Homo sapiens: one gene and its partner. The protein of the gene in region 1 purifies or fractionates together with the protein of each later gene. This does not show direct contact. Each region holds a gene or a part of one and is shown in the gene's direction. Other genes may lie near its edges.

Region 1 (11,908 bases):
TTTATCAATTTTATCTACTTCCCTAGAACAGTGCCTGGCAAATGGTAAATGCTCAGTAACTATTTGTTGATTAAATGCGTTATAACCATCCATTGGAGTGAAAGTGAACATCTCCAAATATTTCCATAATGTGAAATGTAAAAAGCAAGTTGCAGCAGACTACATGCCTTTTTATAAAGTTTAGAAACAAGTAAAATAGGCTGGGTGTGGTGGCTCACGCCTGTAACACCAGCACTTTGGGAGGCCAAGGCAGGCAGATCACAAGGTCAGGAGATTGAGAGTATCGTGGCCAACATGGTGAAACCCTGTCTCTACTAAAATACAAAAAAAAATTAGCCAGGCATGGTGGTGCACACCTGTAGTCCCAGCTACTTGGGAGGCTGAGGCAGGGGAATCACTTGAACCTGGGAGGCAGGGGTTGCAGTGAGCCACGATTGCGCCACTGTACAGCCAGCCTGGCGAAAGAGTGAGACTCCATCTCAAAAAAAATAAATAAAAGTAAAATGAATAGTAATGTATTATTTAAGGATACATAAAGGCGATAAAGTTTTTAAGAAGAAATGATAAATATAAAATTAAACAGAATGGTTTCATCTGGGTAGGAGGCCAGAGAAGGAAGGAATTCACACGGCAAATACAGTGATATAGGTAATGCTCTAGTTCAGCAGTGTCCAGTAGATCTTTTTGCAACAATGGAAATGTTCCATATCGGTGCTGTTCAGTATAGTAGCTACCAGCTTTCTGTGGCTATTGAGCACTCCAGAGAGTGGCTTGTGTGACTGAGGAACTGAATTTTTAATTCTCTTTAAGTTTAAGCGGGCACATATGGCTAGTAACTCATATTGGATAGTGCAATTCTAGTTCTAGTGGCAAATAGACCTATGTTTATTGTTAGGCATGAAAATTTACACGTATGTTAAAATAGTCTTAGGTATATCTAAAATGCAGCATAATCTTAAAAAGCCATTTAAAACAAAAAGTAAGCTTCAGAACTCACTTTGGTAACTATAGTTCTGCTGCTTCCGTAGGATCTCAGCATGACCCAGTTAGTCCCCAGGCCAGCACAGCAGGTGATAATTAACCCTTCTTTACATTTAGCCTCAGAAAATACCAGGCATCAGAACAAGGATCCCTGAGGAGTAAGAGAAAAAAAAAAAGAAAATACCAGGCAATTTTTCTTTAACTTTGACAGATTAATCTTCTTAATTATATTTTTATTTGGCCCATATTAAAATTCAGTTTCATTTCCTGACCACACATCAGCTAGTCTTCATTAAGGTTGCTTGGAATATGCTGTATGATATGAAAGAATCAGCCATTATATTATAAAAATGGATACAGATAGTCGTCAGAGAATGTAATATTCACATTAAATTTTGAAGAATTGGCCGGGCGCAGTGGCTGACGCCTGTAATCCCAGCACTTTGGGAGGCCGAGGCGGGTGGATCACTTGAGGTCAGGAATTCAAGGCCAGCCTGGCCAACATGGTGAAACCCTGTCTTTACTGAAAATACAAAAATTAGCCAGGCATGGTGGCGGGCACCTGTAATCCCAGCTACTCAGGAGGCTGAGGCACGAGAATCACTTGAAGCCAGGAGGCGGAGGTTGCAGTGAGCCAAGATCGTGCCACTGCACTCTAGCCTGGATGACAGAATGAAACTGTGCCTCAAAAAAAAAAAATTGCTGGGTGCAGTGGCTCACGCCTGTAATCCCAGCACTTTGGGAGGCCAAGGTAGGTGGATCACCTGAGTTCGAGACCAGCCTGGCCAACATAGTGAAACCCCGCCTCTACTAAAAATACAAAACTTAGCTGGGCATGGTGGTGTGTGCCTGTAATCCCAGCTACTCGGGAGGCTGAGACAGGAGAATTGCTTGAACCTGGGAGGCAGAGGTTGCAGTGAGCCAAGATCGGGCCACTGCACTCCAGCCTGAGCAACAGAAGCTAGACTCGGTCTCAAATAAAAAAAAAAAAGTTGAAGAATTCAACATTCAGATTTTCCCCGGACAGGGAGTTAATGGTAAGTTTATCTGGCAACTTTAAGAGGAGTTTGGCTCAAATATTAAAGACCTTTTTATATAAGATAAGTGTCTATGGAGGATGCTGGAATCTGAATGTATCTCTTAAAGAAGCAGAGTAAGCATGGGTGCTAGATTTGGTGGGCTGTGGTTGGGGGGATTGTTTGGTAATGCTTTTAGAATATTGATAACCTGCTATGGATACAAGATAAACAAAGTTGGTAAATGGAAGTGAATTATCATTATGAGCATCCTGATATACAAATACAACTATACAAAATTACAAAACATAGTTTGTATGAAAACCAAAAATTTAGTCCCTAACATTTGACTTGCACTGTTGCCATTGCACTTCATGCAGCTTATAGGCACCTTTCCAGGGTAAGTAGGGTTGTCAAATGGTAAATCTGTCTTGCTGCATAGCAAAGCTGTCTATTTCTGTGCTGTATATCTGTCAGTGTTTCAGAGCTCTAGCCCGGGAGGAGGCGGCGGGGGCGGCGGTGGTGAAGAAGAGGACAGTCAGCAGGAATCTGAAACTCCTGACCCAAGTGGAGGCTTCCGAGGAACAATGGAAGCAGACCGAGGAATGGAAGGTTTAATCAGTCCCACAGAGGCCATGGGGAACAGTAATGGGGCCAGCAGCTCCTGTCCTGGCTGGCTTCGAAAGGTAATTCCTTTGGAAGAAGTAACTTGGATAAAATATGTGGCCCTTTGCAGGAACTAGAAAGAGCTGTCAGGGTCTCTCAGTTTTCCAAGTACCTAGTAAACTGTTGTGCATCCTGAATCCAGCCTTCTGATTTCTACCTGGAAAGAAATTGCCTAATCACTAATCCTTTTTTCTTTCCAAAAAGATAAAAAATGTTCTCATACCCTTGTTACTTAAGTGAATGTATTATAAGTTACTATAACCTACCTTGATGGCAGTTTTTGTAGTACATGTATATAAAGATTAAGCTTACAGATTTTATACTGTCATTTATAGAAATGGAATATTGGAGCAGTTGGAATGCCTTACAATAGGAAAATGGTTGATGAAAGTTGAGATACAGAAAGTAAAAATGTTGGATTGGGCACAGTGGCTCATGCCTATAATTCCAGCACTTTGGGAGGCTGAGGCAGGAGGATCACTTGAGCCTAGGAGCTCAAGACCAGCTTGGGCAACACAGCAAGACCTTGTCTGTACCAAAAATTTAAAAAATTAGCCGGGTGTAGTAGTGTGCACCTATAGTTCCAGCTACTCAGGAGGCTGAGGCAGGATGATCACTTGAACCTGGGAAGTCGAGGCTGAAGTGAGCCGAGCTGTGCCATGATTGTACCACTGCAATCCAGCCTGGGTGACAAAGCAAAACCCTGTTCAAAAAAAAAAAAAAGTAAGAATGTTGAAGTATATTTATTTTCATGGAAAGTTACTCACAACATATGGCTATGCAGAAGAGGATGATATATCTGTATGATCTCATTCTTTTAGGAAATATGTAACACACAAAAGAATGTCAACAAGACTATGTATTGACAGTTTTTAAAGTGGTTGTCTGTAAGTGATGGAATTGCTGGTGAATTTTATTAGTTTCCTTTGCCCATTTGTATTTTCTCATTTTCTACAGTAAATATTTATGGTTTGTGAAATTTTAAATTTTTTACCAAAAAAAAAAAAAAAAAGACCGAGCATGATGGCTCCCAGCTGTAATTCCAGCACTTTGGGAGGCCAAGGCAGGAGGATTGCTTGAGCCCAGGAGTTTGAGACCAGCCTAGACAACATAGGGAGACCCCATCTCTATAAAAATTTAAAAAAAAATAAGGCCAGGGCCAGGCATGGTGGCTCACATCTGTAATCCCAGCTCTTTGGGAGGCCAAGGCGGGAGGATCACCTGAGGTCAGGAGTTTGAGAACAGCCTGGCCAATCATGGTGAAACCCCATCTCTACTAAAAATACAAAAATTAGCCGGGCAAGGTGGCTCACGCCTGTAATCCCAGCACTTTGGGAGGCTGAGGCGGGCGGATCACAAGGTCAAGAGATCAAGACCATCCTGGCCAACATGGTGAAACCCCATCTCTATTAAAAATACAAAAATTAGCCGGGCGTTGTGGCGCACGCCTGTAGTCCCAGCTGCTCAGGAGGCTGAGGCAGGAGAATCGCTTGAACCCAGGAGGTGGAGGTTGCAGTGAGCCGAGATTGCGCCACTGCACTTTGGCCTGGTGACAGAGCGAGACTCCGTCTCAAAAAAAAAAAAAAATTAGCTGGGCATGGTGGCACGCACCTGTAATCCCAGCTACCTGGGAGGCTGAGCCAGGAGAATCACTTGAGCCCAGGAGGCGAAGGTTGCAGTGAGCCGAGATCGCACCACTGCAGTCCAGCCTGGGCGACAGAGTGAGACTCCATCTCAAAAAATAAATAGATAAATAAATAAGGCTGGGCGAGGTGGCTCACACCTGTAATCCCAGCACTTTGGGAGGCCAAGGCGGGCAGATCACTTGAGGTCAGGAGTTTGAAACCAGCCTGGCCAACATGGTGAAACTCTGTCTCTACTAAAAATACAAAAAATTAGCCAGTTGTGGTGGTACACGCTTGTAATCCCAGCTACTTGGGAGGCTGAAGTAGGAGGACCACTTGAACCTGGGAGGTGAAGGTTGCAGTGAGCCGAGATTGTGCCACTGCACTTCAGCCTGGTGACAGAGTGAGATTCTGTCTCAAAAAAATAATAATTAGCCGGGCATGGTGGCACATGCCTGTGGTCCTAGCTACTCAGGAGGCTGATGTGGAAGGATTATTTGAGTCCCAAAGGTCAGGACTACAGTGAGTCATGGTTGTGCCACTGCACTCCAGCCTGGGCAACAGAGCAAGACCCTGTTTCAAAAAAAAAAATCTGTAGGTTTAAAGCTCCCTGTCTAATAAGACTAAACTTGCTAGTGATTTGAGGAGCGTGAACAGAGGAAGCAGCATGCTGTTCTGTCTGCACCTTTAGCCTCAGCTTTCAGCAGTGTTGCAGCCAGCCTCACTGACACTTCCTTGGAGCGCCCCAGCTCACTGAATAGCCTGTGTAGAATAAGCGTGTTGGAGTGACACACCAGAAACTCCAGCCTGTGTTCTTTGAGTTTGCCTTTGCATCACTGTTTCTCTGATGAAGGGGTGGCAGTTTTTTCACAGGTAGGCTGTGATATGTTGTTAACCACAACTGTCTTGCCCACTAGAGGGTGCTGAAGTCATGAGAGAGGGAAAACTATAGCAAAAAGAAGGGAATTTGGGAGGAAGCAAATACTGCAAACAGACTAATGAGATTCTTTCTCATATACATAGGAGCTGGAAAATGCAGAATTTATCCCCATGCCTGACAGCCCATCTCCTCTCAGTGCAGCGTTTTCAGAATCTGAGAAAGATACCCTGCCCTATGAAGAGCTGCAAGGACTCAAAGTGGCCTCTGAAGCTCCTTTGGAACACAAACCCCAAGTAGAAGCCTCGGTAACTGAGCTTTTTGCCTTTGAATCACAACTAGGTAAACAGTCACTGCAAGCTCTGCCTGGTTCTTCTGGCCTCGCTCTAGCTTTTGGGTTTCAGCTGCCCTGCATCAACTCATTATACTGTCTATTCAGCAGTACTTAAAGCCTCAACCCAAGACTAAACTGAGTTGCCTCAGAAAGGTATTTACCCTTCCACATTTCTGACAGGCTAACACCTTTCTAAAGGGATTGTCTTTTCCCTCTGCCTCAGAAATACCAAAATTCAAATTCAGTTTTTCATGACACTGGCAGGGTAGGTTAGAGGCTCTAAATATAAGAAAGAAGTAATACTGGTAGTCTAGTGAGGAAGCAACACATGTACACCTAACCTTGGTAAAAATGACATTGTGGTAAATACCTCAGTAAAACTATAATCCAAGGTCATGAAACTTTTTCTATAAAAGGCTACATAATTATTTTAGACTTTTCCTATTAAAGGCCACATAGTAATTATTTTAGACCATTTTAGACAGAAATGTGTACAGCCTCTTTTGCAACTACTCAACTCTGACATTGTAGCACAAAAAGCAGCTTCAAGTAATACATAATGAATGGGCATCCTTGTGTTCCAATAAAATTGTATTTACAAAAACAGGCAGTGGGCCAGAATTGGCCTATGGGCTATTTGTTGAACCCTCCTATAAAAAAAGTACAGTAGAAAAGAGAAAAATCCAGACTAGGATCATCAGAAAGCTTCCCAGAAGAGGTAATAATACCTTTGAAACTTCAAGGTGAATGTTTTAATTTCTCTGTCAGTTCACCTTCTTAAATTGTGTTGGTGGTCCTGTTTACTGACCACCTCTCAGATCTTTTCTAAAGTGTGATTCACTGCATATCATGAATATTGACCCTTTGGGTCTGTGATCTGAAAGACTTGTTCCAAACCAAATCATGCTTTTCCCTACTTCAGCATTTTAAATGAGAAGATACCAAGGTGCTTTAAAATTTTTCACAAAGTCCTCCAAAATAGATGATTGGTCTCCCACCTTGGCCTAATGGGGACTGAGGCAGAGAGTTCACTTTCCATGTTATGTCAGTGCCCATCGCTGTTATAATCCTAGCATTTCTGTTTCTCGTACATATATTCATGTGTATATATGATTTATCTTGTTAATTTAAAAGTAAAATCCGATTGCACTTAGAGGAAGTTTGGATTGAGGAGCTATGACACCTGGGCAGAACCTCCTGCAATCTCCTTCTTGTCTCTCTAGTCACCTCGGCTGAATCCTGCAGTAACCTGTGCTGGGAAGGGAACACCACTGACTCCTCCTGCGTGTGCGTGCAGCTCTCTGCAGGTGGAGGTTGAGAGATTGCAGGGTCTGGTGTTAAAGTGTCTGGCTGAACAACAGAAGCTACAGCAAGAAAACCTCCAGATTTTTACCCAACTGCAGAAGTTGAACAAGAAATTAGAAGGAGGGCAGCAGGTGAGAGCATTAAAAGAATAATCCAATTTCTAAGCCTGTTTTGAAGAATCACAGAAACAAAACACAAAGTACTGAAATAGACTTGTTCCTTTGCAGGTCCTTACTTTTTTTTTGAGACGGAGTCTCGCTCTGTTGCCAGGCCAGAGTGCAGTGGTGCTATCTTGGCTTACTGCAACCTCCGCCTCCCGGATTCAAGCAATTCTCCTGCCTCAGCCTCCCGAGTAGCTGGGACTACAGGTGTGCACCACCATGCCCGGCTAATTTTGGTATTTTTAGTAGAGACAGGGTTTCACCGTGTTGGCCAGGATGGTCTCGATCACTTGACTTCATGATCCACCCGCCTCAGCCTCCCAAAGTGCTGGGATTACAGGTGTGAGCCACCACGCCTGGCCGATCCTTAGTTTTTAATGATACCATTTTTGTAATTATAATCCCAGAAGCCTTGGGCCTTGTTCAGGCACCTAGATTGAATCATTTTCATCACTTGCATTGCTTTTTCTTAGTGTATGTTTTTTCTTTTACAATACTTAATTACATACCTCTGAAAATAGACATTCTCCTGAACAACCACAATACTATAACCACACCTAAAAAAATTAATACTAGTATTGTCAATTCTCATCTAGTATCCAGCTGATACCTCAATTTTCCCAGTTTTCCCCCACAAAAATGTCCTTTATAACCATTTTTTATCAGACTAGAATCCAGTCAAGAATCCCACATTATATGTATGTCTCATTTCTTTTCATCTAAAACAGCTCCCTCCACCACCATCACCTTTTTTAAATTATTTTATTTTTATTTTTATTTTTATTTTTATTTTTATTTTTTGAGACAGTCTCACTCTGTTGCCCAGGCTGGAGTGCAGTGGCGTGATCTCGGCTTACTGCAACCTCCACCGCCCGGGTTCAAGTGATTCTTCTGCCTCAGCCTCCCGAGTAGCTGGGACTATAGACGCTTACCACCATGCCCAGCCAATTTTTGTATTTTTAGTAGAGATGGGATTTCACCATATTGGCCAGGCTGGTGTCAAACTCCTGACCTCGTGATCCACCTGCCTCGGCCTCCCAGAGTGCTAGGATTACAGGTGTGAGCCACTGCGCCAGGCCTTATTTATGTATTTATTTTGAGACAGGGTCTTGCATTGTCACCAAGGCTGGAGTGCAGTGGCACAAACATGGATCACTGCAGCCTTGACTTCCTAAGCTCAAGTGATTCTCTGACCTCAGCCCCCCAAGTAGCTGGAACTACAGGCATGTTCCACCATGCTCTGCTTCACCTTTTAAAAAAATACTTTTATGACATTGACTTGTTGAAGAAACCAGGGCAGTTGTTCAACAGAATGTCCCACATTCTAGATTTGTCTTGTTTTCTCAGGGTGTTGTCTAACTTGTTTTTCTGTCACCCTGTCTTTTCTGAAAACTGGAAGTTTAACCTAAGGCTTGATTAGATTCACATTAAACATTTTTAGTGAAAATACTTCAAAGGTGATGCTGCTTGCATTATTTTTCGAGAGCCATGCTATTGTTTTATATAGAGGGAAGTAGAAGCAGAGAAATAGGGTTAGGCCCTTGGCTTTGCCATTTGCCAGCTGTAGGTGTTTGGGCTACTTTGTTTTCTCTGAGCCCTGGTTTCTCACCTGAAAGAAAATAATAGACACCTTGTATGGTTCTTTGGAGGATTAAATGAACTAATGTTTATGAAATTACTTTAGAAAATAATATACAGGCTGAGCACGGTGGCTCACACCTGTAATCCCAGCACTTTGGGAGATTGCTTGAGCCCAGGAGTTCAAGACCAGCCTGGGCAACCTGGTGAAACCCCATCTCTACCAAAAATAAAAACTAACTGGGCATGATGGCACACGCCTATAGTCCCAGTTATTCAGGAGGCTGAGGTGGGAAGATCACCTGAATCTGGGGAGGTCAAGGCTGCAGTGATCCGTGATCACACCACTGCACTTCGGCGTAAGCAACAGAGCAAGACCCTGTCTCAAAAACACACACACACACAAGGTAAGATTGGCAGCTATAGCAGGGAGAAGATTGTTTTGCCCAGGACTTTTTCCATTTTAAAACTAAGAGTTCTGCATCCCAGGAAACCCCGCAGTCCTGGACAAACCTGGATAGTTGGTCACCCTACCTGCAGTAAATATAAAGGTATGGACTGTATCTAAAATAGTGCCATGAGCGTCTCACAAGATCGTGGCTACAAATCCTTAGCCACGCCTTAGCCAATGCCTTAGAAGTTGGCATTGAAAATATAGTACTGAACTACTTCTGTGACTAGGTGGCACTGTTGCTAATGTGGAACCGTGTTTTATCCGGACAGGTGGGGATGCATTCCAAAGGAACTCAGACAGCAAAGGAAGAGATGGAAATGGATCCAAAGCCTGACTTAGATTCAGATTCCTGGTGCCTCCTGGGAACAGACTCCTGTAGACCCAGCCTCTAGTCTCCTGAGCCTGTAGAGCCCCCAGGAGACTGGGACCCAAAGAACTTCACAGCACACTTACCGAATGCAGAGAGCAGCTTTCCTGGCTTTGTTCACTTGCAGAAAAGGAGCGCAAGGCAGAGGCTCTGAAGCACTTTCCTTGTACATTTGGAGAGTGGCATTGCCTTTTAGATAGGATCTAGGAGTGATTTTATTGTTTTGGAGAATGGAAGGGCCCCCATGGCCCTGGCTTTGTCATCAGTGACTGCCATAGCAACAGCAGCTCTGTACCTCATCTGTTGATCCCACCTTTGAAGAGGAGACACAGTGCTCACCTTAATTGCGCTGGTAGCAGCTTATATCCCATGTATCATTTTCACCATTGATTGGAAGCTGCCTTGGGAATTCAGTACCAGGCATTACCCCTCTGGGTGGGAGAGGGAGAAGTGTAAAGTTGGAGTGGGCTGGAATCAGGTGTGGCCCGCCCAGTGTCCTCTGCAGAGTGGTGAAGTAGTCTGGCCCTCTTGGGAGCCCTGAGTCCAGGAAAATATGTCTGATGGAGTCAATCTAGGGCTTGTTTCGAAAAAGTTCAGTTACTCTGTGCAGCTAAATGCTTTAGGAGGAAAGGTAGGCTTAGGTTGCTTTTCCTCTGAGGGTTGATTGAAATTTCTTCAGTGAGGAATAGAGAAAGGGCAGGACCCTCCTCATCACACAGCTGGTGTTTCAGGCTGTGACCAATGCAGGGTGGGATTTCCTAACTGTGGATGAGGGGATGAGGTGTCTCTGAGGGATGAGGTGTCTCAGAGAATTGAGTCCATGGGGCAGTCAGAATAGCCTTAAGAGAAAATCATGAAGGAGAAGAGGTCCTCCTTTAGCTGCCTCTACTTGGTATCTTAGAGAGGGCTTAGAGGGCTCTCAGTCTTCTGCCCATGAAAAGACTTCTTTGAGCCTCTGCCTTCATGGCTCTTAGGGTTCTGATCTTGATATCAGCAGCCCCAACCACTTTCTTTCTGAATGTCTAGTCAGTATTTTTCCCCTTTTGGTGTTTTATGAAGCCATGTGGTAACGAATGAATCTGTATCATTTTTCCTACCTGAGTGGCCCAAAGCCAGCACCAAACCCTGGGAGTCCCTGAAGCCTAACAGAACAGGTAGAACTTGCAAAAGGAATTTGGCTGAGAGCTCACTTCTAATCCTGTACTCACTGTGTCTTTGTAGATAGAAACAAGCTAGCTTTACCAAAGAGAAATAGTGTCATAGAAGAACAAAACTTCATATAGAAAGTTCTAGGCAAGTATTTGATGGTTTCCTTAAGGATGTGAGCTTTGTATTTCCACCTAGCCTTGTAAAATGTTCCTGTGGTATTTTGTGTCACACATCCTACCTTTGATGAGTCTCACATCCCACCTTCCTATAAACAGCTAAATTAATTTTGTTTCATCTTCCCCAGACCAAAATGTTTGATAATCTTATCAACATTGTGGGAGGTCTTGTGCAATGGAAATTTTGCCATTTCTCCAAAACTGGTGGCATAAAGGCTGATGCTTGGGGAGAACCCCATTGCTCGGGACAGGCAACTCTGTTCAATGGGATCTTCTTTGGTTTGATGTTCCCATTGTTTTCTCAGTTCTGGGAAGCCTAGTACATTAGTACTAATGTAATCACTGAAACCTTTTCTTGAAATAAGGGAAGCAGCCAAACTTTGATTAAAGTTGCAAGTTCTGGGGACTTGCGGGGGTTGTCATAAACTGTAACAGTGGGTTTTGGTTCAGCATGTAAATGCAACTTTGATTTTCTTGAGGACCGATTGACCTGTCATGTCCCTGTATCCTCATGCTCATCATCTCAGCAGGCCTGAGAGGCTGGGTCAGTTTGGGTGTTCATCATGAGGATTGCTTCTGCCATGGAGCTGATGGACATGGGCAGGTTGCTGAGAAGGTGGGGTGAAAGTGAGTGCCGGGGGTGGGTGAGTGCCCTGGTCTTGTTCATAGGGGAGCCTTTCCCTAGCAGTGGAACGCTGTGGTCATTTTCTCTAGCATATTCCCTTGGGAAGTCTAGATTTGCTATTAATCTGGCTGAGAATCTAAGTTCTGTGCCTTAGAGACAGTTTGCACTTTCCCATATTGTGCCTGGGACAGCCATATGATTTTTTTTCCCACCAAACAAGTATGCAAACAGAAACCAGTTCAAAGGGGGATGGAGTAAAAGATGAGGCAGTAGAAATGCCTTTGAATGGTTTTCTGTAGCTAATTCTCTTTAAATTTTGTCCTGCTTTTTTTCTTTATGCAGTGCTAGGTGTTTTAAGTTTTCTAGTAGTATTGCTTTTGAGTTACAGTATAACCTGAGTTACTCCTCTGCTCTAACATTGTTGCAGAAGAACTAGTTTATTGTTAGCCAGGTTGCTTGAAAGGTTGAGAGTGGAGTGGTTTGGCATTTCTGTTTTAAATAAACATTTAAGCTCTTAATCAGTACTGTGCTTCAGTAAGCCTGTGCATGGACCTTAGTCTCTGGGGATAAAACATCCAGATTCTAAGCCTCCGT
Region 2 (17,132 bases), on another chromosome or scaffold:
GCTAATTTTTTGTATTTTTAGTAGAGACGGGGTTTCACTGTGTTAGCCAAGATGGTCTCGAACTCCTGACCTCGGGTGATCCACCCACCTTGGCCTCCCAAAGCGCTGGGATTACAGGCGTGAGCCACTGTGCCCGGCCTTGCCTACATTTATTGACCTGCGGTCTGGCCAACTTGATAAGCCTGGTTGCATGCAGGATACTGGATAACTGAGACCAGCAACTGCTGGCAATAACAGAAAGATGCTTCCCCCACAATTTTGGCCCTGGGAGGAACTTGGGCTCTTCCACGGGAATCTTTTCTCACTTTTGGGTAAGGACAGCCCATTTCACATGAAGGACTCTCTGGACCTGGGTCATGGCTCACCTCATGGGCTGATGCAAAAATGCCACCATGGCTGGGCATGGTGGCTCACACCGGTAATACCAGAACTCTGGGATGCTGAGGTGGAAAGATTGCTTGAGGCCAGGGTTTGAGACCAGCCCTGGCAACATATCGAGACCCCAACTCTACAACAACAACAAAGTCACATTTTGGAATTGAATTCAGGTTTCAGTTCTGAGGTAACCTTATACTCATTTTAGTTTTATAACAGATCCTCTAGAAACTTTAATCATCACAGTTTAAATGGAAGGGAAGCCTTATCTGAAAATGTCATTCAGCTAAGTGCAAGTCTCCCAGGTACTCAAGAAGGAAAAGTCCCTATTCTGACTGGGAGGACTTTGATGATGAGCATCATTGGCTTTATGCAACTAGACATGCTCTGTTATTACAGACCATTCACATCTTGATCAAACACTCAGTTTGGGCCAAGCAAAGTTTTAGCCTAAGAAGAGAGTGAGGAATGATACAAAAAGCTTTTTGACCATGTATCTGGAGACACACTCATGTATGTGCACACATGTGCCTTCTGTTTGCATGTATAGGCACATATAATTATTCTAAAAGAAACTAAAGGGAATAATATGCACAAAAGCAATTATGCATTTTTTATTTTTTTTCCTATTTCTTTTCTCCCCAAAATTGCAGACTGCCTAGATGCAAATTAATACAGTAACACCAAAAGAACCCTAAAGTCACAGCTGATTGCTCTGATGAACCTATGACAGGCACTAGAAGATTGCTTACTAAAGTCTGCAAGCAAAATAAAGAAACAATTTCTTACACCCATTGTAAAGGCTCTGTGTGCTTTAATTACATCCACCAAAGACCATAAACTCAGGTTGGGAAACTTCCATGTCTTTAATCTTAATTGTTGTAGTCCAAGTATTTCATTGCACTTGAAAACCCCTTATGACTTCTTACATTTCTAGTTAAAATTTATTTTTTAAATGCATGGTTTTTGTTTTTGTTTTTGTTTTTTTTACTCATAGACTTCTAAGTAAAAGTCCATAGACTTGGAAACAGAAGGGTTTAAAGTAAAACAAAAAAAATCTTAGGTTTTATTGTTATTATTACTTAAGTCAGAGGCAATTTTAACTTTTTGTCTTTATATAGCTTCTTTACAATGTTTTGATACTGCATTTGATCGTTTGGTTATTGGATATAAAGTTTGTGTTGTAAAGGACCGCAAACTAATGATTTTTTTAAAATGTGCAATTGAGATGTCATCTAATGATACACCTGTTTCTGGTTAATCAGAATGTTTTATCAAATCCTTAAAAGCTCACTGAGGTTCAACTGTGGTTTGGGATAAAATATACATAGATGAGGAATATCTGACTTATTTTTGTGTGGAACATGAAGTAGTATAAAAAATAGACTTTTCAAAGAAGAATAAGACATGATGAATAAGAAACTGTTATCCAGGAAATTGGTATTATATTAGCCTACAATACAGACAAACTGAATAATGGAGTAATGAGGATAGTATATGGGTGAGGAAAGAGCATCCAATAGATAACTCAAGAAAAGCCTAGGAAATCAGGTTCTTTGGCCTATGGAGATGGGAGAGAGAACTTGGTAACCCTTGTTTGCAAGCATACTGAGGTAATCTCAATTCTACAAATTTGCCTCTTTAGGCTGGGCACGGTGGCTCATGCCTGTAATCCAATCCCTTTGGAAGGCTGAGGCAGGAGGATTGCTTGAGCCCAGGAGTCCAAGACCAGCCAGGGCAACATGGCAAAACCCCATCTCTACCAAAAACAAAACAAAACAAAACCACACACACACACACACACACAAAAATTAGCCGTGTGTGGTGGTGTGCACCTGTAGTCCCAGCAACTCAGAAAGCTGAGGCATGAGGATCGCTTCAGCCCAGGAGGTTGAGGCTGCAGTGAGCCAAGATCATAATGCTGTACTCCATTCTGGGTGACAGAGTGAGACCCTGTCTCAAATAAAATAAAATAAAATAAAATAAAATAAAATAAAATAAAATAAAATATTCCTCTTCATCACACTTCAGCTCAATTTTCTGTTTCTGATCTTCTTTATTCATTCATTTAACAAATATTTATTGAACACCTACCATGTGCCAGGTGCTCTTCTAGGAGCTGGGAATTCAGCAGTGAACAAAACAGACAAAATCCTGCCAAATTCCTTTAAACTGTAGCCTGCATTTTTTTCTTTCCACTTTCAGACCCCCCTTTCAGTCTTTAATCCCCTGCAACTTGATTTTTTCCTCCACCATCAAGATAAACAACTCTCTAAAGACCAGTGATCTCGTAATCACTAAATCTAGTATCCGTTCCTCACTTCTCATCTTCCTTGGACTCTGTAGCATTTAACAGCTTCCAACTTCCATCATTAAAAAAAAAAAAAAAAAAAACAACCTTTTGGCTCCTTTTGGTTCTGTGATAGGGCACTAGCAGGATTTGCCTTCTATTGCTGTTATTGTTTCTTCTCTGACACCTTCTCTTGCCTCCTAAATATTGGAGGTCCCTCAAGTTCTACATTCTGCTCATTTCCATTTTTTCCCTTAAATCTTTTTCCTCTAAGATTTCTCATAGCTTAAACCATCGGCTCTATTGAGAAGTCTCCTGCGTGTATATTCCCAGACCCAACCCGCTCCTAAACCACAGTCCACATTTCAAACTGTGTGCTGGAGGCTTCCATCTGGACATCTGGTTATGACGCCAAGCACAATCTGTTTAAAACTGAACGCAGCACTTGTACCACTCAGAGTTCTCTATTGCAAACAACAGAAACCCACTCTGGCTGACTCAAGCAGAAAACAAATTCGCTGGGAGGATATCAGGTAGCTCCTTCAGTCGATGGGAAGATCAGAGGGCCAGGCACAGAAAATGGGCAGAAACCCAGGCAGTGTAGGGCACAGAGAGCATGGGCAAGTTTACTCTTTAGGACTCTAGTGAGGACGCTGCCCTGGAGTGGGCTGCCCTACTTCCTACCTCTGCACACCATCACTGTTGCTCTTCAATTTCTCAACTATCTTCAAGCATGGTCTCTGACTGCTAGTTTTTGTATCACTGCCCCCCAACTCATCCCTGCCATTAAAAGACCTGGGTTGAGGCATTCACTTGGCCTAGGTCATGTGCCTGGGCCCCAGCTGTCAAAGATGACCTCTGATTCCCTTCAGCTTCCCACAAAGGTTAATTCATCACTGTATTTTCTTTTCTCCAGTCACATCATTTCTTTAAGTTCCCATTTTAATATAATGCTGCCATTATTCTCTCCATCACTGGGAGCTGAACCTGGATAACCTGTTTTACTCCCTCCTCTTCCTTAGCTTCTGAGGCAATCAGTCCACCCAGCTCTGCGAGGGTTTTGTTTGTTGTTAATTCATGTTTTCCTTCACAAGATTTTTTTTTTCTTGGCGCTTTCTGCAGCTACTGCTTCACTGCAAGTCTCCTAATTGGATTCCCCACTTCCAGTGCCTCTTCCAATGTGTCCACCCGGTTTAATCTTCCTAAAGCAATGCTTTGATCATATCACTTTGCTGCTAAAACTGCATTGTTGATAGGCGTCTCAGTCTGGTGTTCAAGGATCTCCACAACAGAATCCCATTGAGCCCAAAAGGCAAACTGGTGCAGCGAAGAGTTTGATTTTCAGATGTAGATGGATATGGGTTCAAAACTTGATTTTCCCATTTTATAGTTTTATACTCTTGAGGCTCATTTTCCCTGTCTGAAAAATGGGGATAATGAAACCTACCACTTAAGGACCTTCATAAGTCAGAACTTTGAAAGTTGAAACGGTATTATATGTTGTATTTAGGTTGCAACATCAACCCACAGATGCTTATAATAGGCAATATTCAATTTCAGACCTGTCTGGTTCAAAACCTTAAGTAAGGCTGTCATCAGTGTGGTTTAACGCAGGCAGGTTAGGATCAGCATGCTACATGTTTTTGGGGCTAAGTGGCAATCTAACCACCAATTATGGCATTATTACTAATTTCAAACTGCTGACTTACAAATGACCTTTTGGAAATATTTTATTTGCAAGTAGAGAACTTCCTGTGTTATTAATTTTGAGAATTGAATTTCCTTGATTGGCTGCTTTCCACTCTAATATTTCTATTTAAAAGTATTTCCCTGCAGAATATCAATTTTGTAAGGGATTGTTATGAACTCTTCATGGAGAAAAATTTTACATTTATGATGGACACATGAAAATTATTAGCTATTATCTCTAAGGCTTGCGCAACATCCAGTAAATGTAGTAAAGCTATAACACATAAAAAGAAACTTTAAAGTTTGTTCCACAATCTCAACAAGTTCAAATCTCATTTCATGGCATAAATTCTGAATTAGCATTGGGAAAACTTAGCTCTGCAGGCAAGGCTAGTTGTCTTCTTTCTGTAGGTCATGGATGGCACCATGAGAAATGCCAAAATTAACCTCAATAGGCATTCGTTCACTCACTCATGCATCTATGCAGCAGGTCCTCCAAGTGAGGTATGGCTTGTGATCCCCACAGGATAGATTTCAGTCTCATAAGTTCTCACCAAGAATTTACAGCACTACTAATTGCTTGATTCTTTCCTGAAGTCAGCAAGTCTGGAAAGTCTTACGAGAGAGATAACCATCATGCCAAGATTGGTAAAACAGTTATTAAATAAGTATGATATTTTAAACCAGTCTCTACAGACACAGTTTATGAGTGTCTAAATATGCAGTGAAATATATTTTTTGTTTTTGCATTTTAATGTTTTCAAAAAATGAATACTTCTATGATTAAAATAAAATAAAAGTGAAATCCCCCATATCTCTCCTCTACCCTTTCCTTCTTCCACTTAATTTCATTTCTCAGAGGCAGCTACTTTTGACACTTTGGGGTATCTCCTCTCAAACTCCTTTTATTTCTCTTGCAATAATTTTGAAGTTCTCCCTAGGCATTCTTTATGGTTAGAAGCTAGAATAACATTGCCATTTAGCTTCTTATAGATTTTGGAATTCTTTTACACACTGCTTACATTAAACATATTATAAAAATGAAGAATCCCTTTTTTCCCCCACTCAGGTATTAACTCTGATTTTTTTCTATCAAATTTGTGCTTACATGGACTACAGGTTTATACAATCTATATAGTTCCATGACTATAGGGTTTCATTTTTTAAATAACATTCAAATAATGAAATAAAAGGAACTGAAGACACAGCATACTTAAAAAAAACCCTTAATTTTCCTTGGCATTTATTTTAAAATGTCTGCGGGAGAGAAAAGCAAGCAGACAAAAACAGTTTATAGTTACTTTTCAAGATCATCTAGCTAGTGAGAGTAAAACAAAGAAATTGAATAGGAATCTTATTTTTCTTCAAACGTTAGGTCAAGACTTTGACAATGTATCTTCACAAGTATTCTGAAACTCCTCCCACAACATACTAACCTTGACATAGAGGGGAAGGTAAGTATGCAGAGTCAAGATTCGATGTATAAAGAGAATGTTCTGGCCAGGCATGGTGGCTGAAGCCTGTAATCCCAGCACTTCAGGAGGCCAAGGCTAGGCGAATCACTTGAGGTGAGGAGTTCGAGACCAGCCTGGGCAACATGGCCAAACCCTGTCTCTACTAAAAATACAAAAATTAGCTGGGCATGGTGGTGCACAACTGTAATCCCAGCTACTTGGGAGGCTGAGGCATGCTAATTGCTTGAACCCGGGGAAGCGGAGGTTGCCGTGAGCTGAGATCGTGCCACTGCACTCCAGCCTGGGCAACAGAGTGAGACCCTGTTTCAAAAACCAAAACCATAAAGGGAATGTTCTAAGTTTTCATTATTTGATACAGCTATATTTAGCCTTTTCCAATAACTGGGATCCTGAAAAACGGCACATATTTTGCATTTGCCTGAATTAAGTTATACTTAAGGAGCTCAAAGGGGCAATGGAACTCCACATTGAAAATAATCTAAAGATAAATCCTTTGTTAAGGTGAATAACCAAAATAACCCTCCAGTAATTCGTAACTGTTTAGAACCTTAGTATTTGTGTGTGTGTTTGATAATGTTCAGCTATGGTTTCACTTTTGAAAGATGTATGTTAAATTTTATTTTATCATAGTAGTATTAGAGGCTTAGATTGCAAGATGTACTTTGATAAATATAAAACAAAAATTCTGGCTGCTTTAAAACACTCAGGCACTGGTTGTTGAAACAATGTATTCAGATTGACTAGTTTTCAGAATTCTTCTATGTTTGTTCATTATTCAATAAATATTTATCAAAAAGCTGTTCTGTAATATGCACTAAGTATATAATAGAGAGCAAAAACAGGTACAAAATAAGAGCAGCTAATACCTACTGAGCACTTATAACATATTGTGCCCTGTTTTAAGTGCTTTACATATATTACCTCATAGCATCCTCTCAAAAACTCTAAGAAGTAGAAGTGTTATCATCTCCATTTTGCAGTCAATAAAATGGAGGCACAGAGAGGTTAGGTAATTTGTCCAGTGTTTCATAGCTAGTACATGATGAGTTGGGATGTGAATCTGGGCAGCATGATTCCAGAGTCTGCACTCTTAACTGCTGGGATGTACTAACTCTCCTACATTTTAACAGCTTTCCTTGTAGTATACAGTATAATGAATGAGATGCTTATTGAATAAATCATTCAAGCAAATGAAAAATTTTAACTCTGATGAATGCCACGAAGGGGAGTGTGGCAGAAACCAGAGAGCTGTTACCAAAATATGTCTCTTTTCCTTCTGGATACACAGACTACATTCCTAGCCTCCCTTGCAGTCATGTGACCAAGTTCTGGCCAGTGGAATGTGGACAAAAGGGAGGTACACACTTCCAGGTCTGGACCATAAAACATATGTATACCAATATGCCAAGTTCTTATTCTTTTAATCGACCTAAGGCAGAGAGTGTGGCCTGAAGACACAAAGGAACAGCTGTCAGAATTGAGAACTTCTCAAACATTTACTTAGGCTTAATAGAAACTTATGCATATGAAAATGCCCATAGCAGAAGGAACATTGGGTAAATCATTTAAGTTTGAAGAGAAGGAAATTTTAGACACCGTTTAGTCTGTAACCTGAATTTATCTTGGCTGCGTTATGGCCAGTCTCCATATAGTATGGTATTCAGAAACAGGTCTTATATCCAAATAAGAAATGCAAAGTAATTTACATTTTTAGGGAAGATTTTTAAAGAGGCAACAAAGGGAGACGTATACCCCAAGAAGGTTTAACAATCCTTTCAATCATTTAATTCCTCTAAGTCTCTCTCATCATTACATATTTCTTGTCTCCCTTCTTGTTTGTCCCTCTCTCCTGCAACTCTGTGTAGTAGGACTCTGTTTTCCCCTAACTCAGCTTTTTATTATGTATTTATCAATTTATTATGTATAGATCAATTCAGTTCTTCAGTACCTTACAGCTCTTCTCTCTCTTACTCTAATCTGCACAACTGAGCCCCAGGAGGGACTTGACAAACCATGAGAAAGTCTTTAGAAGTATGGGAAATCGTGTTGGGGAAGGGAGGAAGAATATGAACGCTATGTATATTTACATGTTTTGGTTACATGTCCAGACAACCAATTTGCAAATGAATAAAGTGACGCCTAAATAAATTAGGTGATTTGACACTCTTGAGTCATACGGAGTTGGGCCTAGAACTCAGTGTTACTTCATTTGAAATAACCCTTATTATGGTTCCCTAGCAGGCCATCCTATAGCCTGCCATATATGGTCGTTTTGCACCCCTAGACGACAGAACGCTAGGGAGAGTAAGGAAGGCTGAGTTTTTGCTTCTACTAGGTTCGATGACCTTGGGCAGGTTGTCCTCTCTAAGGCTCTGTGTTTTTCTTCATAAGAAGGGTTAGACAAGATGAACTTTTGGGTCATGTCCAGCACTAAAATTCCTTGCTTCTGATCTGTCCCGGGCCCTGCGGCTGTGGCAGTGGTGGTATCGAGCTAGTCAAGAAGCTTCGCCCCTATTTGTCCCCCACCCTATTGGGGGAGAGGGAGAACCTCTCCCTCTTGGTTGCTTCTTTAGTGTCCTTGTAGGACCCACGTGGTGGTCATCTCCCGTCACGGGGGTCCAGTCTTGGCTCTGCGGGCTTCCCAGGGGCCACATAGGGAGAGGATCCTTCATGCATCAGAGTATCGCAGGCCAGAGTCTATGCCTTATCCCCACCTGTTTGGAACCAGCTTCCAAACCGTGGTCCCCAGCCTTCAGCAGGCCTACCGCGCAGGCGCAACCACCAGCCTGGCGCGAGGCGGACAAACGCCGAGGCCGAGGCAAGGTGAGAGGGCGGGGCTGGCAAGACCCCGCCTCCGTGGCGTCACGTGGGAGGCGGAGTCGGAAGTGTGACGGCGTGCGCGGGGCGGGGCTACTGCTGCGCGCGGGCGCGGGGGCGGGGCGGGGCGCGGCGCGGCGCGGCGCTCGCGGCTGCTGCCTGGGAGGGAGGCCGGGCAGGCGGCTGAGCGGCGCGGCTCTCAACGTGACGGGGAAGTGGTTCGGGCGGCCGCGGCTTACTACCCCAGGGCGAACGGACGGACGACGGAGGCGGGAGCCGGTAGCCGAGCCGGGCGACCTAGAGAACGAGCGGGTCAGGCTCAGCGTCGGCCACTCTGTCGGTCCGCTGAATGAAGTGCCCGCCCCTCTAAGCCCGGAGCCCGGCGCTTTCCCCGCAAGATGGACGGTTTCGCCGGCAGTCTCGGTGAGTACGGCTGGGGAGTCCTGCGTCTTCTGCGAAGGGTAGGAACTTTTTTCCTTCCGCACACAGCCCAGGCCCTGCCCTCCCGCCTGCCCCTCGGGGTGGCAGCGGCTCCACTGCACATGTTCCCTTCGAGGCTGCCGCCCCTCCGCGGACTCCGGTGGACTGAGGGCCCCTCCCCCATGTCCAACTCTCCTCTGTGTCAGACCCTCCTTTCCTCCCGGAGCCCCTTTCAGTGCGGGGCCCTCGTTCCCCCAAAGTGGGAACCCCTTCCTTCTCAGGCCCCCCGATAGCTGGCACACCCCTCCCCGTACACTCACGGCTCCCTCCACTTACCCCCCTTCAGAGTTGGGACATTTCTTCAAATCCAGGCTCCTCTTCAGGGTACAACCTTCCACCACCTTTCCACATACACGCCTCTCTTTCAGGGTGGGGATCGCCTTCACCCGAACAGAGGCTCCTTTTTAGGGGAGGGACCCTCATTCCCTCTTCAGGAAGGGGGCATCCCCCGCCCCCAAGTCTTCACTTTAGATTTGAAGGCGACTTTCCAGTATCCTTCAGAGTAGTAGGCAACTTCCTTTTCAATCCCTCCACTTCTCTGAGCATTTTGCAGTGGTGGAGAGACCTAGAAGCATCGGAGCATCATTTGCTTAATGCAGGAAAGGAAGAGGTGCATCTGTGTTGGGGGACCCTCTTTAAGAGTGAAAGCAGAAGTGTTTTCTGGTTCTGCATACATGCTGGGGAGAAGTGATTCTGCCCAATGAATCAATAGGAAAGGGGGCCTCTATCAGGGAAGGAAAGGATTCTCCATTTTTGGAAGATGTTGTCTTTGTGGAATGGAGAAAGGGAAGAGGTTATTAAATAGGCTGAAGTGCCTTTTCAGTGTTCCTTTCACCAGATGAAGGTAATCTTCTGGCTAGGAAAATCAAAACTCCAGGCTAGTATTCGCTGCCCTAGAAGCTGAATCTGGAATTACTATTCTTCGAGGCCATTGAAATCTAGTAAAAGATTAAGTTCAACTGTTAGAATGGTGAGAGAAACAGTTTCAGCTTTGGCTGATAACGCAGTTGTGTGATACCTACTGCTGGAACTGTATTTTGAGTTTTTTATGTGCAGGTAGCTTGTATTCAGACGCCTTTCTTTTACATTTCTTGATAATAAGTCTCTACTTGGTTAATGTTCACTGATCAGTGAGCAGTCTGGCCATAGGCCGTACTATATCCAGATAATATCGAGATGAGATGGATTTTTAAAATCTAAAGTAAAAAAGTAAGTCAAAGAGCAATGGGCCTATTATAGATATTAAATAGTAAAACCTATAATTTTGGCCTTCCCTTTTTCTTGGGCAGAAAAAATTGTCGTTATATTGCTTTCAGAGTGGAAATCCTAAAATAGGAGGCAACTGAGTGTTGTGTTACTCTTTCCTCCTCAAAGGCACCTGTTGTCCATTATCTAACCTTTGATGTCTTGTAATTCCTTACTTAGGTTGGGCTCTTTTTAGAGAGACATCCATTTTTCCCTGGTTCTTTTTTAGCTCCATGCGTTGGTTTATTCACAGTAAGTGTTGGACCGAAAAACTTGTCCTATATGTCCGCTGAAGGGCTGATCTTATACTAAAGTAAAAATTGAGTGTCTTCTTAGGGGATGTTGTGGAGAGCTGTGCTATCTTTATACTGTATTGGGTCCTCATCCTGTAGGAGTGGTGAGATCACTTTAACTTCTTTCGTGTTGGCTCTAAAGATTTCTGGAGGGCTTGTTAAAGCTTCATCTTCTGTAAGTGTTTAGGAGGAGTCTTTCTCACCAGTTGGGGCACTTAATGTTTATTTTCAAACATTGATTATGCTTTGTAATAGCTTTCTTCTTTCTTAACCAGTTTATGAGGCAAGTGATACAAAAGACCGAGAGATGAAGATGAATTGCAGTTGGGGCTCACACTTTTCATAAAGAGCGTCATTGTTGACCCTAATGTTGGATTTAAAAAATTCATTTGATGCCATGCTTTGGGTGGTATGTGATGAGACTTTCCTTTAGATATGGTGTTAATCAGGAGCAGAGGAGATATGCCTATCAGAGGAACCTGCATCTGCAGAGAGGGAAGGAAATGGTTCCTGGCAGTATTTCTGGAGCTGTTCTTGATGAAGATACTTCTCAGTGGGAGCTCTGTGCTTTCTCTTTCTGTCCCCCTTGCAAGAGTAAAACTAGGCCCCATCTTAATTGAAACCTTAAAGGGGTGGGGGAGGAGTAGTGCTGGTATATTTTACTGGTAGTCTTTAAGCGGAGCTTTGCTCAGCTCTTGCCAAATTGCTTGTTTCTGTTCTCTGCAGTTAATTAGCCTAGAGCTTAGAGTTACATTGATCTTTATTTTACCATCAGGAGAGCCATGAATATAAAGGCAAGCACTTCTACTCTAGTAGGTGTTTAAAAACTTTTTTTTTTTTTAAACAAGAAGTCAAAACGTGAAGTTCTTCTGGGGTTACAACTATTGAAAGCATTTATTCTCAAGGAAGTATGTGTGTATTTCCTTTTACATATTAGATAGATTCTTGAAAAATGGTGAAAAAACTACATTTTTATAAGCAGAAAAATTGAGTACTTTATAAACAGAATAATTTTAGAGAAGAGATTATTTCAGAGAATCCTATGGTGACTCATTTTGTGAAGTGAAAACTTAAAATTCAAACTGTACCCTTGATTGTTGCATGTTTAGATAAGAAATCCACTGTGTTATGTGCATTTTATAAGATGTCTAATGGCAATTAAGACTAGGTAGTGGTTTTTTAAATCATAGGAATGATAAGTGATTGGCCATTTTATAAATGCCACATTGAAGTTACATGGTACTGATTATGTTATCTTTGTTTTACATAAAAAACAAGTGAAGAATTCTTTTAATCTCCGCAGCTGATGAATTTCAGGCAACTTGGCTGGCAGGTGCTTGTACTCTGGAATTTCCCTTAGGTATTATTAATATATCTTTTAATCCACAAATTATGGTAACTTAAGGCAGCACTTTAGAAACCTTTTTTTTTTTAAACTTAGGAGAGAAAAGTACTCAATTACCTTGATGTGTTGCCTCTAAATCACTACATATAGATACCCATGTGCAAAATGTATATACTGTATGTATATTAAATCTCAGGTCTATGTGCAAAAGTGGGAAGCTATTCATACAGCTTTTACCGATTTTTTATAAGGCAGGGATTGGGTGCATTTCATGCTTAATCTTTTTAGAATCTCTTTCATAATAGAGGTTTAATTTTAAGACTTTTATCTTGGAATTAACCTAGAGATTAGTCTGTTTTCACTTGAAAGAAACCTTATACCTAACCAGTCAGCTTTAAATTTTTCTGCCTCAAAAGTTAAACAACAAAACTTAAAATCTTCTTCCCCCTAAGAAAAATCATAGTGAATGAAATTGTTGGATTAGGATCTATAAGAAACAACATTCTGGGTACAGGTTGTAAATGTGAACAAGTATAGCAGTATGCTTCAACTTATGGACTATTCAGAAATTAGTCTTTTTAACATCACATTGTTAGAACTGTGATTTCTCATCACAGATAATAGTCTTGCTTTCTTAAAGGAACAATGCTGTATATGATTTTCACATATTAATCTAAAGCATTCCTTATTTACATGAAAATGTTTTTCATGTAATATTTGGAGAGGTTTTTTTTTTAAACTTTTTTTATTGGTTGCCTCTTGAAGAGTTCAAGATAGACTCAAGTTGTGTAACCAGACATGAGTAGTAACTCTTAAATGGTTAGTAGAGCATCTTCAACATGAGTTAGCTAGAGTGTTTTTCAACATATGTATGGATTAACATCGAACATGGGCTAGCACTATGCTTGGTGGTTCTTATGGGAAAGACAAGTAAAAGACATGCTTTTTGCCCTTTAGGAGCTTACTGCCTGGTTTTTAAATAAGTACCATGACTAGGTGCAGTGGCTCACGCCTGTAGTCCCAGCACTTTGGGAGGCTGAGGTGGAAGGATCGATTGAGCCCAGTAGTTTGAGACCAGCCTGGGCAACATAGCAAGACCCTGTCTCTGCAAAAAAAACAAAAATAGGCATAGTGGCATGTGCCTGTAACCCCAGCTACTTGGGAGGCTGAGGCAGGAGGATCACTTGAGCACAGGAGTTGAAGGTTGCAGTGAGCTATGATTGTACCACTGCACTCCACTGGGCCACAGAGCAAACCTCTGCCTCTAAAAAATAAATAAATAAATAAAGTATGTACTGTATGTAGAGATGTTTATTATTAAGCCTAAGTACCAGAAATGGGGATGAAGGGAGGAAGCACCATTTAGAATGCTGTGCTATGTTTCAAGCAAGTAACTTCTGAGAGAACATTTGTTGATTGCTAGATTTATCTCTGCAGAGCTTGGCTTTTTAAAACAATGAAATAATTTAGCAGTTTAAATTCTAGGGAGTCTTTTTCTGTCTTATGTGTAAGTTGGAATAACATGTAGCAAAATACTGTATTTTGTATGTGGGAGTCCATTTCTGTAACATGTAAAACTTCAATATTCATAAGAAATTTTAGAAAAATATTTTGATTTTTAAAATAGATTCTAATACTTGTAAAAAGTTTAGGGAAAGAATCTACTTCATCTAGTATTACCTCAGTGTGGAAGATTCCCAAATCTATAGTATATTTCTTTGTGTGTGTGTGTCTGACGGAGTCTTGCTCTGTCTCCCAGGCTGGAGTACAATGGCACGATCTCAGCTCACTGCAACCTCTGCCTCCTGGGTTCAAGCGATTCTCCTGCCTCAGCCTCCTGAGTAGCTGGGATTACAGTTGTGTACCACCACACCTGGCTAATTTTTGTATTTTTAGTAGAGACAGGTTTTCACTATGTTGGCCAGGCTGGTCTCAAACCCCTGACCTCGGGTGATGGCCACGCACCTTGGCCTCCCAAAGTTCTGGGATTACAGGTGTGAGCCACTGTGCCTGACCCTGTAGTATATTTGTATGTCGGTATATGATCTCTTGTCCTTTAGCTGTCTTAGGCTTTTATAATACCTTAATTTTGCATGCTGTATATGATTTTTAAATATTATTTTAAAGCATTCCTTATTTACAGTTTACAAAGAGCTTTTATCTCATTTAATTTGCATACTAACCTTGGGAGATAAATTATTATACTTTTATAGGTGAAAAAGGTCTAGAAAGTGGTTTTTTTTTGTTTGTTTGTTTTTTGAGACAGAGTCTTGCTCTGTTGCCCAGGCTGGAGTGCAATGGCGCGATCTCGGCTCACTGCAGCCTCCGCCTCCCGGGTTTAGGCAGTTATCTGCCTCAGCCTCCCTAGTAGCTGGGATTACAGGTGCCCGCCAGCATGTCTGGCTAATTTTTGTATTTTTAGTAGAGACGGGGTTTCACCATCTTGGCCAGGCTGGTCTTGAACTCCTGACCTTGTGTGATCCACCCACCTTGGCCTCCCTTACAGGTGTGAGCCACCGTGCCTGGCCGTGTTTTTGTTTGTTTGTTTGTTTTTGAGACGGAGTCTTGCTCTATTGCCCAGGCTGGAGTGCAGTGGCACCATGTTGGCTCACTGCAGCCTCTGCCTCCCGTGTTCAAGCTATTCTCCTGCCTCAAGCCTCCCGAGTAGCTGGGACTACAGGCACTCACCACCACACCTGGCTAATTTTTTGTATTTTTAGTAGAGATGGGGTTTCACTGTGTTAGCCAGGATGGTTGTGATCGCCTGACCTTGTTATTCGCCTGCCTCGGCCTTCCAAAGTGCTGGCATTACAGACGTGAGCCACCGCACCTGGCCAAGAGTGTGTTATTTTTTTAAAAGGTTAAGTCCAGGTTTTTTCTTTTTTTGTATGGTTGGGAGTGTTTGTATCTATATTATTTTTATTTTATTTTATTTTGTTTTTTTGAGACAGAGTTTCTGTCGCCCAGGCTGGAGTACAGTGGCACAGTCTTGGCTCACTGCAACTTCTGCCTCCTGGATTCAAGCGATTCTTGTGCCTCAGCCTCCCGAGTAGCTGAGATGACAGGTGTGCACCACCGCACCCAGCTAATTTTTGTATTTTTAATAGAGAAGAGGTTTTGCCATATTGGCCAAGCTGGTCTTGAACTGCTGTCCTCAAGTGATCCATCCACCTCAGCCTCCCAAAGTGCTGGGATTAGAGGTGTGAGTCACCATGCCCAGCATCATATTATTTTTAAATAAAACACCATAGAAAGGAAAGAAGAATAGAAAAATAAATTATCTTTAGCCCATTTGTATGCAGCTGATGTTAACATGTTAATGTACTTGTTCTTAGTCTTTTCCTATGCTTAGTTTTTTAATAGTTAAAATCATACTGCAGACATAATTTTGCATTCTGTTTTTTTCGTTGGATCCTAACCTTTTTTTTTTTTTCCCACTTGAACTCAGATTTTTCTGATGGAGTCCAGTGGTCTTTTCTCTACTCCAATACTGACTCTTTATAACCCTCAGGTACATACCTGAATCTGAACTTCTCTCCTGAATCAGCTTCTTTTCCTTATTTCCCACTGACTGTATCACCCAGTTTGAAATTTCAGAATCATGTTTTGATTCTTTGCCATTTTTGCCTAGGGCATTAGAATCTCTTCTAAGACTTGTCAATTCTTGTCACCTTTTCTCATCCCTTTTCTTTTCCACCGCTATAGTTCAGGTACTTATTATTCGATGCGTGGATTATTGCATGGCGTCGAGAATCTCCACCTGTCCAGTTTATTTTGTACAGGGCCCTCAGATTTATCTTCCTAAAGCCATGCTTTGATTGTGCTATTCACCCTCTCAGATTGCTTCATTGCTTTAATGACTACATTCAAACATCTTAGCCTCTTAACATCTTCTCAAGTCCTCTGTCATCTCTTTCTACTGTCTTACCATGTTCTGACCAAAATGACCTATTTCTTATTCCTCACATTTTCATCTTTTCATCCTGATGACTATTCTCAGTACCCTTCAAGGCTCAACTCAAATATTATTTCCTTTCTAAAAATGTTTACTTCTTTTCATTCCCAGCCCAAAGTATTCTTCCGTGAACACTTGATAGGACCACTCTTGGGGTACTTATTGCAGAATGTTTATTCCAATAGTTATAAGGTGAAAGTAATTATTACAGATCTTACAATTGTTATGTCTTATTTCCCTGAGCCAAATTGGTTTTATTTTTATTTATTTATTTTTTTATGAGACAGAGTTTTGCTTTGTCGCCCAGGCTGGAGTGCAGTGGTATGATCTCAGCTCACTGCAACCTCTGCCTCCTGGGTTCAAGGAATTCTCCTGCCTCAGCCTTCCGACTAGGTGGTGTTACAGGTGTATGCCACCACACCCAGCTAATTTTTGTATTTTTAGTAGAGACGGGTTTCACCATGTTGGCCAGGCCTGTCTCAAACTCCTGACCTCAAGTGATCTGCCCGCTGAGGCCTCCCAGAGTGCTGGGGGATTGCAGGTACCATGCCTAAGCCAAATTATAAACCTCTTGAAGGCTGTATTGAAGGTTTTATTGAAGGCTGAAACTCTCATGTGTCTTTGAAGTCTTGCAGTGGAGATTTCATGATCCAGTAAAATGTGGAGGAAATAAATTAGGGACTAGTATATAGTTGACAACTTAACAACCTTCACTTTCATACCTCTTTTTTTTTTTAAAGAAATGACATTTGAAGACCAAAAGATTGTAATACACAATCTCAGAATAAAAAATTGTAAAATTACTTTGAAAATTAAATATGGCTCACGCCTGTAATCCCAACAGTTTGGGAGGCTGAGGCGGGCGGCTCACTTGAGCTCAGGAGTTTGAGACCAGCCTGGGCAACATGGTGAGAACCCGTCTCTACCAAAAGTACAAAAAAATTAGCCAGGCATGGTGGTGCACGCCTGTGGTCCCAGATACTCGAGAGGCTGAGGTGGGAGGATTGCTGGAGCCTGGGAGGTGGAGGTTGCAGTGAGCGCAGATCACACTACTGGGCTCCAACCTGGGTGACACAGCGAGACCCCGTCTCAAACAAGCAAACAGACAAACAAAAACTCATTATGTTCTTATTTCTCATTTCACCTGAAATAAGTGAAATGTTCTAGA

The links.
Region 2: the proteins of NEK9 (region 1) and EML4 purify together in Homo sapiens (affinity purification with western blotting; 2 studies listed by BioGRID and IntAct, with this or other methods). This does not show direct contact.

Annotation. Positions count from the first base shown.
Region 1 is NC_000014.9:75,082,045-75,093,952, reverse strand, and holds part of NEK9 (serine/threonine-protein kinase Nek9), read left to right. Parts: intron 1-2,474; coding exon 2,475-2,683; intron 2,684-5,311; coding exon 5,312-5,473; intron 5,474-6,722; coding exon 6,723-6,935; intron 6,936-9,266; coding exon 9,267-9,389; 3' UTR 9,390-11,908.
Region 2 is NC_000002.12:42,160,568-42,177,699, forward strand, and holds the start of EML4 (echinoderm microtubule-associated protein-like 4), read left to right. Parts: upstream 1-8,785; 5' UTR 8,786-9,044; coding exon 9,045-9,069; intron 9,070-9,402; exon of another isoform or gene 9,403-9,664; intron 9,665-17,132. UniProt on the Homo sapiens protein: Essential for the formation and stability of microtubules (MTs). Required for the organization of the mitotic spindle and for the proper attachment of kinetochores to MTs. Promotes the recruitment of NUDC to the mitotic spindle for mitotic progression.